3 separate regions of the Homo sapiens genome follow, and all the other regions are linked to region 3. The links come from fine-mapping of genetic effects on gene expression. A gene starts in region 3. Each other region holds a variant in brackets. All regions are shown on one strand. Distances are between the middles of the regions. Region 1 overlaps CFAP44 (cilia and flagella associated protein 44). Region 2 overlaps CFAP44 (cilia and flagella associated protein 44). Region 3 holds the start of CFAP44 (cilia and flagella associated protein 44).

The links. PIP is the estimated chance that this variant, and not a neighbour inherited with it, causes the effect.
Region 1: its variant is the best candidate, but not a certain one, in a credible set for the expression of CFAP44 in whole blood (INTERVAL, PIP 0.75).
Region 2: its variant is the best candidate, but not a certain one, in a credible set for the expression of CFAP44 in nasal epithelium (TOPMed, PIP 0.81).

The regions. Positions count from the first base shown.
Region 1 is chr3:113,372,534-113,376,781 of GRCh38, forward strand. It overlaps CFAP44 (cilia and flagella associated protein 44), which reads right to left. Exons shown (of 35, transcript NM_001164496.2): 18 at 878-1,023. All of the region lies in intron 35 of SPICE1-CFAP44 (SPICE1-CFAP44 readthrough (NMD candidate)), which reads right to left. Among named protein-coding and RNA genes, the nearest start is that of CFAP44-AS1, 29 kb to the right of the region's middle. The variant TTTTATTTA/T (reference allele first, on the strand shown) is at 1,830.
Region 2 is chr3:113,301,967-113,306,214 of GRCh38, forward strand. CFAP44 (cilia and flagella associated protein 44) reads right to left here. Exons shown (of 35, transcript NM_001164496.2): 30 at 4,235-4,248; 31 at 3,070-3,186; 32 at 1,950-2,151. SPICE1-CFAP44 (SPICE1-CFAP44 readthrough (NMD candidate)) reads right to left here. Exons shown (of 52, transcript NR_183050.1): 46 at 4,235-4,248; 47 at 3,070-3,186; 48 at 1,950-2,151. Among named protein-coding and RNA genes, the nearest start is that of BOC, 93 kb to the left of the region's middle. The variant G/A (reference allele first, on the strand shown) is at 2,183.
Region 3 is chr3:113,439,757-113,444,004 of GRCh38, forward strand. CFAP44 (cilia and flagella associated protein 44) reads right to left here and starts at 1,737. Exons shown (of 35, transcript NM_001164496.2): 1 at 1,697-1,737. It overlaps SPICE1 (spindle and centriole associated protein 1), which reads right to left. Exons shown (of 18, transcript NM_144718.4): 18 at 2,962-4,248. It overlaps SPICE1-CFAP44 (SPICE1-CFAP44 readthrough (NMD candidate)), which reads right to left. Exons shown (of 52, transcript NR_183050.1): 20 at 1,697-1,898.

The DNA of each region.
Region 1 (4,248 bases), 67 kb before region 3:
ACACATGGACACAGGGTAGGGAACATCACACACCAGGGCCTGTTGGGGAGTGGGGGGCAGAGGGAGGGATAGCATTAGGAGAAATACCTAATTTAAATGATGAGTTGATAGGTGCAGCAAGCCAACATGGCATATGTATACCTACGTAACAAATGTGCACGTTGTGCACATGTACCCTAGAACTTAAAGTATAATAATAAAAAAAAAGAAGAAGAGGACATTAGGATACAGACAGAAGCATAAGGGATGACATGCACCCAGAGAAAAGATCATGCAAGAAGGCAAATATCTATAAGTTAAGGAGACAGGCCTCAGGAGAAACCAACCTGCTGACACCTTGATCTTGGAACTCTAGCCTCCAGAACTGTGAGAAAAAAAATTCTGCTGTATAAGCCACCTAGTCTGTGGTGTTTTATTGTGGCAGCCCTAGCAAACTAATACAAAAGAATAGAGAAAAAAGGCCAATTTGAAATTTGAAGCTATTATATTGGGTCGTCAGAAGAATAACTGGCATATTTGCCTAGTTCTCAATTATTAAAGGGCTAATGATTCATTTGTGATTTCTCCAGAATAACTGTAACCCTGAACCTTCATTTCTGACTATGTAAGTAGCATCCTCCTAGGTAGCAGAATGTAAATCCATACAATTCAATTGTGCGATAAACAAAAATACTGACAGAATATTTGGTGGGGGTATTTAAATATAATTTCAGTATTAGCTTTGATTTTATTTATTCATTTGATTTATTTAACCAAATATTTTTTGAGTACCCCTTCATTTGGATGGATCTTTAAAAATTGACAATATCCATGATGAACAAAAGCATAGACACTAACAGGATATGGTTTTTTTAAAGCTTTTTGAAATACTGCTCACTTGAAAGTGATAGTTTGGATGGGATTGTCCTCTGTATCCGCAAGATAACGGACATCAATAGGTTCATCTTTTTGTTCTTTGAAATCACTGCTTTCATCACAAGGGGGGAACTCACAGTGATATAGAAAACCAGAATCATAGCCACCCTAGAAAAGAGATAAGTAACATAGAAGGTGGTACTTGAATATAACACACATAAATGCATGAGAATTTTTTGATTATTTCAAATTTGAAAACATAAAATAGATGTTTTCAAACATCTACTTCTACATAATTTCTATGATTATAGATTTATTATTTCTATAAAGCATCTCCTTTATCCATTTATACACAACTATATAATTATAATAAAAACCTCATGATGATTTGTTTTCATTTAAAAGCCAATACAAGAGAGATATCACCTCTGACTCCCTACCTACAGAATTTCATTTTATTTCTTCAAGCATTATTCTGAATAAGCAGGAACAAATATTAGGGTTTTGCAGTTCCTCGTTTTTACAGCTAGTTTGCAGTTTAAGGTAACTGTAAACACTGTTAATTTTCCAGAAAGGGCTATTTCAGAAAAATTTATCCATGTAGTGAGAAGATGAATGATCAACTGGAAGAGCTATATTGCTCCAACTCTAATTTCCTTATTACTGAGATTCCTTATTATAGGAAACAAATTAAGGGTCAGAACAACTTTATGAACAATAAAAGAATAAATAAGAAAGAGAATGTAACATCATGATCACCTCTGAAAATCAAATTACTAAGTTTTCACTTTTGACAACAGCAGACTAGATTGTTTCAGCCAAACTCTCCCACTGAGAACAACCAGAACAAATTTTGTAAATGTGTTTGAAGGCATTGGCAAGCTACCAAAATAGCAAGATCCAAAAAAGAGGGAAAGCCAAAAGTGAGCCTGGCATTTGGCACTGCTTTACTCCCTGGAGCAACTGTCAATTTC[TTTTATTTA/T]TTTATTTATTTATTTATTTATTTATTTATTATTATACTTTAAGTTCCAGGGTACATGTGCACACGTGCAGGTTTGTTACATATATGTGGCAGCTGAGAGGCTAAGAAGCTGGACAAAGCTATCTGCAGTCTCATAGACTTATGGAGAAAGAAATAATCATTTCCAGGGTTCAAGCAGGGTCTCAAAGAGATATTTGAACACCCACCTCATTCATAGCAGCATTATTCACAATAGCCAAAAGGTGGGAACAATCCAAGTGTCTATTTTTGTGTGTTTGTTTTGAGATGGGGTCTTACTCTGTCACCCAGGCTGGAATGCAGTGGTGCCATCTCGGCTCACTGCAACTTCCACCTCCCAAGTTCAAGCAATTCTCCTGCCTCGGCCTCCCGGGTAGCTAGGATTGCAGGTTTGAGCCACTCCGTCCACCTAATTTTTTCTATTTTTAGTAGAGATGCGGTTTTGCCATGTTGGCCAGGCTGGTCTGGAACTCCTGGCCTCAAGTGATCCACCCGCCTTGACCTCCTAAAGTGCTAGGATTACAGGCGTGAGCCACCGTGCCTGGCCCCAAATGTCTATTTATGACTGAGTATATAAGCAAAATACGGTACATACTTAAAGTGGAGTATTATTTGGCCTTGAAAGGAAATTCTGACATATGCTGCATCACGGATGAAACTTGGGGAAATTATCCCAAGTGAAACAAGCCAGTCATAAAGAGACAGATACTATATAATTTCACTTATTTGAGATACTTAGAGTAGTCAAAATCATAAGAAAGAAAGTATGGTTGCCAGGGGCTGAGAGAAGGGAAGAATCAGGAGTTATCATTTGATGAGTATGGGAGTTTCAGTGTTACAGGATGAGGAGGACGGTAGAACAGATGTTGGTGATGACGTCACAACATTGTGAATACGTTTACTACTACTGAGCTGTACACTTAAAAATGGTTAAGATGGTCAATTTTATGTTATATGTCTTTTACTTCAATAAAAAGCAATTGGAAAAACAAACTTTAAAATAAAAGTTACGAAGCTGGAACAGAGATCAGAAAAAATAGGCTAAAGCATGGAGAAAGACAAAAAGGATGGAAAATCTTCTTGAATGATGTAAGATACATACGGAACATGAGAAGGATGTAATACACATAAAGTTGGGGTCCCAGAACAAGAGAGTGAAAAGATAGGCCAGAAGCAACACTGTGGTAGATAATGGCTGAGAATTTTCTAAAACTGAAGAGATATGTTGAAATTTAGAGTGCTACGAACTGCAAACAAAATAAAAATGAAGAAACTAACACCTTTTAACCACGCGTGTTGGCACACACCTGTAATCTCAGCTACTCGGGAAGCTAAGGCAGGAGAATCACTTGAGCCTGGGAAGTAGAGGCTGTAGTGAGCTGAGACGGCACCATTGCACTCCAGCCTGGGCAACAGAGTGAGTGAGACTCTGTCTCAAAAATAAAAATAAATAAATAAATAAAATCACCTCTAAAAGAATAGTAAAAGAATGTATAACTAATAATCTAGTAGAGGAAGAAAACTGTGGAAAAAATTACCTAATCACTCAATAGAAGGTAAAAAAAAGGGAAAGAAAATAAATTTAGAATGAGTGCGACAAATAGAAATAATTAGTAAGATAGTAGATTTAAACTAAAATATATTAGTAATTACATTAAATATAAATGAACATAGTACTTTTTTAAAAGACAAATATAATCCTATAGGATTCTTTTAAGCCTAACCATATACTGTTTACAAGAGACCTACTTTCGATATAAGGGTATCAAATAGTAAAGGAAAGAGAAGAATCCTTAATAACGTCGAGGTTTTGGCATAGTAACTAAGTGGATGATTGTCTCATTTACTGAGATGGAGATGGAGCAGGTTTGTATGGGACATGTATGGTTTAAAAGTAATGTCTTGGACAGGTTAATTTTGAGGTGCCAAGGAGCATTGTCAAGTTGGATATACAAGTCTAAGTGGAGGGGAGAGGTCAGGACTAGAAATAAATATTTGAGATTCACTGGAAGATAAGTGATATTTAAAGCCATGAGACTGTGTAGTTACCTTAGCAAGAAAGAGGGGGCCCAAGGCCGCACTCTGGAGTATTTCAAACTTCAAAGCTTGTTCTGCACATGAGAAGCCAGCAAAAGAGGCTGAAATGGAATGGTCAGAAGAGTGTAATGTCTTAGAAGCCAAGAGAAGAAAGCATTTGAGAAGTATGAGGGGTCAACTCTGTTAAATGTTCCGAAAAGTCAAATGGACAGAGAATTGACCTCTGAGCTTATCATCATTAGTGAAGTGATGGAGATATCCCAACTGGAATGGGTTGAAGATCAAATAGGAGGTGAATAAGTTAAGCCAATGATTACAGATGATTCTTTCAATAACTTTTTATGTAACAGAGCAAG
Region 2 (4,248 bases), 140 kb before region 3:
TATTCTGTTTCTATGAGTTTAACTTTTTTATACTCTGCATATAAGTGATGTCATGTGGTATTTTCTTTCTGTGCCTCTTATTTCACTTAACATATTGTCTTCCAAGTTTATCCATGTTGTTGCACATAATAGGGTTTCCTTCTTTTTTAAGGCTGAATAGTATTTCATTGTGTACATATACCACATTTTCTTTAGCCACTCATCTGTTTATGGACACTTAGGTTGATTCCGTGTCTTGGCAATTGTGAATAATACTGCAGTGAACATAGGACTGCAGATGTCTCTTCTGCATACTGATTACTAATTTCATTTCCCAGTAGTGGAATGGTTGGACCAAAAAATATCTTTATGACCTCAAAATAGGAATGGATTTCTTAAGCAAGACACACACACATACACATAGTGCACAAACCATAAATAAGTAGATTGATTAAAAAAATTACTATATTAAGATTTAAAACATCTGTATCCAAAGATACACTAGACAAAGTAAAAAAAAAAAAAAAAAAAAAAAGATAGCCAGGCACTGTGGCTCTCGCCTGTAATCCCAGCACTTTGGGAGGCCAAGGCAGGCAGATCACCTGGGAGTTTGAGACCAGCCTGGCCACCATGGAGAAACCCCATCTCTACTAAAAAACACAAAAATGAGCCGGGCGTGGTGGCAGGCGCCTGTAATCCTAGCTACTCGGGAGGCTGAGGCAGGAGAATTGCTTGAGCCCAGGAGGCAGAGGTTGCAGTGAGCCAAGATCACGCCACCACGATAGAGGTGAGACTCCAGCCTGGGCGATAGAGTGAGACTCCATCTCAAAAAAAAAAAAAAAAAAAGAAAAAGAAAAGAAAAAAGACAAGTTACAAACTAGAAGAGATTTGCAGTGCATTCAATGGACAAAAAGGATATATTAAGAACTCCCTAAAATCAATTTAAAAGCAAAAAATAGAAATCAAAAATGGACAAAGGATAGGACAGGCAAGTTACAGAAAATAAAATAAATAAATGGCAAATATATGTATGTAAAGATATTTAACTTCACCAGCAATCAAAAAATGTGAATAAAAACCACAATGAAATGTAATTTAACATCTCACAGGCTGGCAAAAATATTAAAGTCTGATAATATCAACTGTTGATGACAATATGGAGCCTGGGCAATTCTCACACATTGCTAGGGGAGGAGAAATTTGTTCAACCACTTTGGGGGCAACCTGGCAATATCCAGGAGAGCTGAAAATGTACATATCCCTCTGTAACCCAGAGACCCAGTACTAGGATTCACCTTCTCACACATGTGCACAGGGAGATGTGTACAAGAAGGTTTCCTGTAACATTGTCTATAATAATGAAAAATAATAAATATCCTAAATATCCATCAATAGGAGGCTAAATAAAATATTTAATATTCATAAATGGAATTTTGTAGCAGTAAAGTGAATAAACTATCTGTAGTTTATGGATAACTTAAAAATTGGTTTAATAAAGTGAACCACAAAATGATATAAATATCATTTTGCACAGTTAAAAATATGCAAGGTAGGTCTCCATATTGTGTGTGGACACATCCATATGTATGTGTGCATACCTGGTGGTGAACCCCGAGGAAGGAGCCACAGAATTGCATTAGAAAGAGATGGGGCTTCGATTGTATCTCAACGTTTTCTTTCTTAACCTGGGTAGTCTTGCACTTGGGTTATTATTGTATTATTCTATATTTTAATCATACACAAAGAGAAGATGATTCTATGACAAAAGATTTCTCCCTTTAAAACAGGAAAGCGAGCTTTTCATGGCATCAGGAGAAACGGTGAGTAGGAAGATGTTGTGGTGTTCTTGTTTCCCTTCTCAGTGGTTCTGAGTCTGCAATTACTATTTTCACAGTTGGAGACAGTCACCTGGATAATTCCCTTTCTTACCAATAAACCTTACTAGCAAGGCTGTGGGCTTAGATACTCACTGTGTATGGTTTTTGTCATTTCTCTCTTTTCTCGGATGAGCTGTTTACGTCTCTCTCTCCATTCTTTGTTAAGTTTTTGCTGCTTGGAATTTTCCTCCTGGAGCTCATGGATTCGTTCTTGCAGCCGTCTCAAGGCATGGTTAGAGAAGACCAAAGTACCAGAAAGATCGCTAGGTATTTCTCCAAATACCACATACTCTATCTACAAGCATAAAACAAATCAAAAGAAAATA[G/A]ACAAAAACACAGATTTTGTATGGCAACAGAAAGCATAAGAGGTGCACTTCCTTCTTTGCCCCTTGTTTAGCTCCTTGCCTTTGGGCTTCTACGTCTTCCTTACTGAGTAACAGTAGCCAGGCAAACACAGAAAGATGCTGTCAGACAGAAAGCCACATCACGTCTCTGTGGGGATAGCAAATCCTCCCACACAGATCATGCCTATTATCTACTGCATAATGATGTGACAAACATTTCAGGGCTGGCATACTAGGCAAACCGCTCCATTTAGCTCATCCAGTTTGGGTCAGGTTACACAAAACATATATAAGGCTGATCTTGTTGTTGTTGTTTTCCTAAAATACAGCTTTTTCTCTTAACCTGACAAAGGAGAATACAATAAGCCTTTTCTCTTAATGATATGTATTCCTGCAATTTAATATAAGTTGCAATTCAAATAGAAATGAACAAGAAAAGTAAAAAAGAGAAAATATTTTCCTTTTGTCCTGACCTCCCTCACCAATGAGTAGAGACTAAGCAAAGGTCATTTTAGCATGATTAGTCCATGTATAGATAAAGATGGTGTGAAAAGTGGCATGGGTATAAGAGCCAAGATTTCACCCTCTGAGCCATTGCATTCTTAAATCATAGGCTCCTCATTTCTCTAGACTTGAAATGACTGATTTCCAAAGTGCTAATGGGCCACAGGGAAATATCCATGTTTTGATGTTACTCTTTTATAACAATCTGACAGTGGATAAGACAAGTGTAGGTGTCATTCTACAGGTGGAATTCTCAACAAAGAACCACGATTCTCCCCATTAGTGAACTATGAATCTTTCTCTGAAAAGCTTGGGTGTGATGACTCTTCTCGGACAGGATGGAGCAGCCTCCCCAGACGCATCACCTGGTGGAGCTTGAGCGGAATCACAACTAGCAGTTCATTCAGCCGCTGCTGCTTCTCTCGCTGATAAGCCTCCAGGGCCTCCTCTGCTGCATTCAGATTAGTTGCCACAATTTTCACCTGTAGAAAGCCCCGTGTTGTGAAATGGTGACAAGACTCAATAAACATACATCTAAAGATGGTGAATGAAGGCATCTTGGGAGGAAGTAAAGCATGAGCAGAATCTGCTTTGTTGGGCTGTGATTAAGTGCATGATCCCAGTTTGCAACTCAGGAATGCATATTATTTTCTTTCTGCCAAGTTATGATCCACATCACTCTTCAGTCATTTCTATGACTCCAGAGTTATAAAGTTTTGTGAATAAGAGCCCAGAAGACATGTCCTCATCTCCCTTTTATTTTCTGCATGAAAAGCAGCCCATCAGCATGGAATGTCTTTGACAGAATGGTGGGAGTCTTTTTTGGTCATGACTTCAACAAATTAAAGAAAGTTTCAGTGCTTTAAAGCAATGAAACTGCTAACTATAGTATTTCTAAAGCACATTCTCCATGTCCTAGAAAACCTGAAAGTTTTCCAAATCATTTCCTGTTTGCAAGAGGAGAAATAATACATCAAAAATATTTCTGAACATGAATGAAGTTAAGTGATGTTGCTCTAGACAAGAGTACCTAAGAGGGAAAGTGAGCAGATTAAGGCAGAAATTGGTGGTCTCCAACATGGGATGCATGCACCCCAGATGATCAACAAAATCATCTATTGGGGTATAAATTGAAAATGTCAGAGTTTCTATTTCTATTTATTTTTATCTCATTCTATTTAATTTCTGTTTTTGTGGATGTTTCCTATTGTACAAGATACATAATAGTTCATAAATACAATTTATAAATACATATACATTTATTGTATGGGGAGGGGCTCCATTTTCATTTTTTTTACTTATACAGTCATCAGAAAAGTCTGGAGACCAATGACTGACATAAAGTAAGTCCAATGATCAAAAAAGCAATGTCCCCCACCACAATTTAGGGAGAAAAAAACCTGCCCTTAACATTTGAAATGTTTCTTTTCTGAGAAGTCCTAATATTGTCATTGCTATAAAAAGGCAATATTATAGCTAGGAGGATGTGTAGCATTTTGAGAGGATAAATAAGTAAACAGATCACCATACTTTTTTTGACAATG
Region 3 (4,248 bases):
AGAGTGCTGTCTAAGGTGACATTACTCTGATTCATTCACCAGAGTCCAGGTTCTGGTCCTCATGCTCACAAGCTCACTCAATCCCAGCAGTGTGCCAGAGGTGGTTATTTAAGATTCACAGTGACTGATGTATAAAACAGACTCTCGGTTTTTACTTTGCAATGTGAAATACAGCTGTGGAGAAAAAAAGTAATAGCTTGTCTTTTTTAATGTTTACTATGTGTCAAGTACAGTTCTAAGAAATTCTACACATATTATCGTACAATTCTCAAAACGACCCTATGAGGTAGGTACCATTATTATTTTATTTATGTATTTATGTATTGAGATGGAGTCTGGCTCTGTCACCCAGGCTGGAGTGCAGTGCTGCGATCTCAGCTCACCGCAAACTCCACCTCCCTGGTTCAAGCGATTCTCGTGCCTCAGCCTCCCGAGTAGCTGCGATTACAGGCGCACACCACCTCGCCCGGCTAATTTTTGTATTTTTAGTAGACGGGTTTCCCCATGTTGGCCAGACTTGTCTCGAACTCCTGACCTCAGGTGATCTACCCACCTCCGCCTCCCAAAGTGCTGGGATCACAGGCGTCAGCCACCGCGCACAGCCTATTATTATTATTTTTGAGACAAAGTCTTGCTATCCATTATTATTACTGTCATTATTTTACAGATGAGAAAGCAGCGTATTTACTCTGAATCCGTTCCTCTCACCCAATTCATGTAGATGATTTCCAAGTCCTGTTACTTGGTGTCCAGTGATTAAGCCTTTTGAATTCCTCCCCTCCCTTCATTCCTACTGTCCCTGCTGTCCCTCTGTAGTTCCAGTCCTCACTGTGTCTCACCTCTACCATTACTGTACCGTCATACTTTGTCTTCCCTTCTGTAACCCATTTTCTACACTATCGCTTGTATTTCTAAAACACAGCTTTTAATGTGTCACTCTTGCTTAAAACCTCTAATGGCTCATCACTGCTATCAAATAAGAGCTCAGATTCCTCGGTCTGGTGTAAAGGTCCCTTGTCAGAGGGTCTGTAGCTTATTGCAGCCCAGCTACAGTCACCCTCTCTCTCTCCCTAGCCTCCTTAGCCTTCTCCTCTCAAAGATTTTCATCAGTACGCACCCTTAGCAACTCATGATAGACTGGACACACTGAGCAGCACACATGTATGCGACTGTCTTTACCTATTATCCGACAAATATTTATGTGCACCTACTATGTGTCATGCATGTGCTAAGCACTTTACTTGTATTATCCTGTTTAATAATAACTCCATGAGGTCACATTATCACCTTTCTTTCTGGAGATGAGGAAGCCGAAGTGCAGAGGGCCCAGCGTGCCAAGCGTCGCACCCAGCTGAGCGCAGGGCAGGTGTCTCACTGGAGCGGGGAGCCCCAGCACCTTCCCAGCTGACTCGCTGCTGCTCTGACTTGGCCGGGTCTAAGCTGTGCTCCTGCTGCCTGGCTGGCTTCCGCCCGGTCAGACTGACAGGGTCTTGCAGGCAGGAACCGTGCACACAGTGTCTAGCTCCGAGCCTGAGAATACTCGTGGCTTCAAAAGTTTGCTGAGCTACCGCAGGGAGGACGAAGGCTATAACACTGGTCCAGCCTGAGAGAAGCCCAAGTGGGGTTCACTGCCCTCTGAGCCACAGATTTAAGGGGGAGGGTGTGGAAACTGCCGGCTGCTGAGGTCCAAACTCACCGAAGGTACTGACCGCCGCGGCTCCTCTCTTCACAGCGTCTGCCGGAGGCCTCCGTTTACTCCGGTTACCGAGACAACGCCACCCCTCTTCCAGGGAGGCGGAACCAGGGCGGGCCGTGGGGCGCATGCGCGGCCGGCGTCCAGCTCTCCGGGAACCCGGTACCTATCCGCCCTTTGGTCGGGCCTTCTCCGCCTCATGACACTGGTTCAAAGCCAAACAGAAAAGCCCGACGAGTTTATTATCCCCTAAAGGACGTCATGTAGATAATTAAATGACATGAATACCGTCGAAGATACCTGCCTGATATTCCAAAATGGCCCAACGGAGCCCTGATCGCGGCGTTCCTATGTTGAGGTTTTAACTTCGATTTTAAGAGGGGTCCTGGGAGATAGTAGGCAGCTTGCCGGCAACATCAACAACAAAGATACATCGTGGGATTTTTGTTATTTTTAAAACTATATTATCTCTGTTGGCTTTTAAGAGTAAATCAGGTTTTATGTTGTGGGTTTCTTGGTCGCAGCGCTCTGGGCACAAAAGTATAGGCCTCCCTTGACAGATTTCTAGGTTTAGCAGTTTGTTCAACCTCTCTGTAGTACTGTGGTCATATTGTTTTTTAAAGTACCTAGCCTAACGTTATTAGTTACCAAATACTTGTTTTAAAATGGTCATTCCAATATGTGACAAAGGACTTTGTATACAGAATGTATAAAGAACTCTTATAATTCAATAAGAAAAAACCACCCAATTTCTTAAATGGGCAAAGGATTTGAATACTTCACCAAATCAGATATATGTATGGCCAATAAGCACATGGATAGATGCTTAAAAGTAGTCATAAGGGAAATAGAAACCACAATACACATAACTCCACATCCACGTGAAGGGGTAAAACTTCAAAGATTGCTAACACCAAATGCAGAAGGATATGGAGCAACTGGAACTCGCATACACTGCTGTTGGGAATGTAAAATGGCATAACCACTTTGGAAAACTATTTGAGAGGTTTCTTCAAAAGTTAAACATACACAAAGTCATTCCACATCCAAGATAGTCTAGAGACTTGGGCAAAGTGGTTGCCTAGGACTTAGTGAGATGCACTGGAAAGAGACACAAGGAATCTTAGAAATGATAGAAATGCTGTGTCTTCATTGTGGTGGTAATTTCATGGGTATATACAACTGCCAAAAGCCAATAAACTGTTCTCTTTAAATGGATGTCATTTATTGTATATAAATTATTTGTCAATAAAATTGGCAAGAAAAAATTGCTATAATACAATTTGTGTTTATTAGTTTCCACAATGTTACACAAATACCATGCATTTATTTGCAATACTGAAATGTCCTCTTTAATCAAGATTTTCCAGGGCTTAAAAAAATGATTATCCTTGCTATTACTTATTAAATGGTATATCTAGGTGCCAGAAAAGATAGAAAACATAGGGTAAACTTATTTTTAAATAGCATGTTATTTATATTTTCAAATCATATGCCCAGCATGTTTTCTTTCAATCTCTAGACATCTTTTCAGGTGAAATACCTCTAAATTTCAAGCACTGTGTGCAATTGTTAATCTGAGAAAGATACAATAAATTCACTATACAATGTCTTAAAAATTGGAAACATGGGGGAAATAGTGTATTTATTTATTTATATACCAAAAAAAATTGGCAGTGATCATTACTGAGTGTTGTGAGCCAAGCTCTGATCTCAGCCCATTTACATACACTTGCCTCACTTAATCCTCACAAGCCTCTAGGGAAGACATTATGTCTGACTTTCAAATGGGAAAGATTAGATTAATTTGTCCAAAGTACACAGCTCAAGTGGCAGAAATGGCATTTGAGGCAAGATTTCTGGTTTCAGTACTTGCATCCTTAGCTACTGTACTGTATTAGTTCCCGTAAATTAGGAGAAATCCAGTAACTGCAAGAAAGAGCTTCAAGTCTTGGCTTTACCTCTTACAAGCACTCTGTCATTAGACAACTTTCTTCACCTCTAGGGCTCAGCATCCTCATCTGTAAAGGTGCTGGGAGAGGAGGAAGCATTTACATACCTCTAACTGATAGGTCTACTATGAGATTCAAATGAGATAATGGTGATACCACAGCTTATAGTACGGTGTCTGCCACAGTAATGGCTCAATAAGGAACAGCTATTCTTATTATTATGCTGCTTCCATACTACACACACTGTAAAACAGGTTTACTCTCCAACAAGAGGCAGCACAGCATAGGCTTTGGAGAAAGACTGCCTATGTTCCCATTCTAATGCCACCACTCCCTAGTTGTGTGACCTTGAGAAAATACCTCCTTGTACCTCAGTTTCCTCATCTGCAAAATGAGGATAATAGTACCTATCCCATAAGGTGTCATGAAGCACATAAAGTGGCTACAATATTGCCTAGTATGTAGTTAACAGTTAATTATTAAATTCTGCTAACCAAAATAATTTTGTTTACAGCATAAGAATGATTATATGATAACTGTGGATGTTGTTATCAATCCAGTATCTCTGCCAACCTGTAATTTGGAAAACTGTAAATTTCAGGT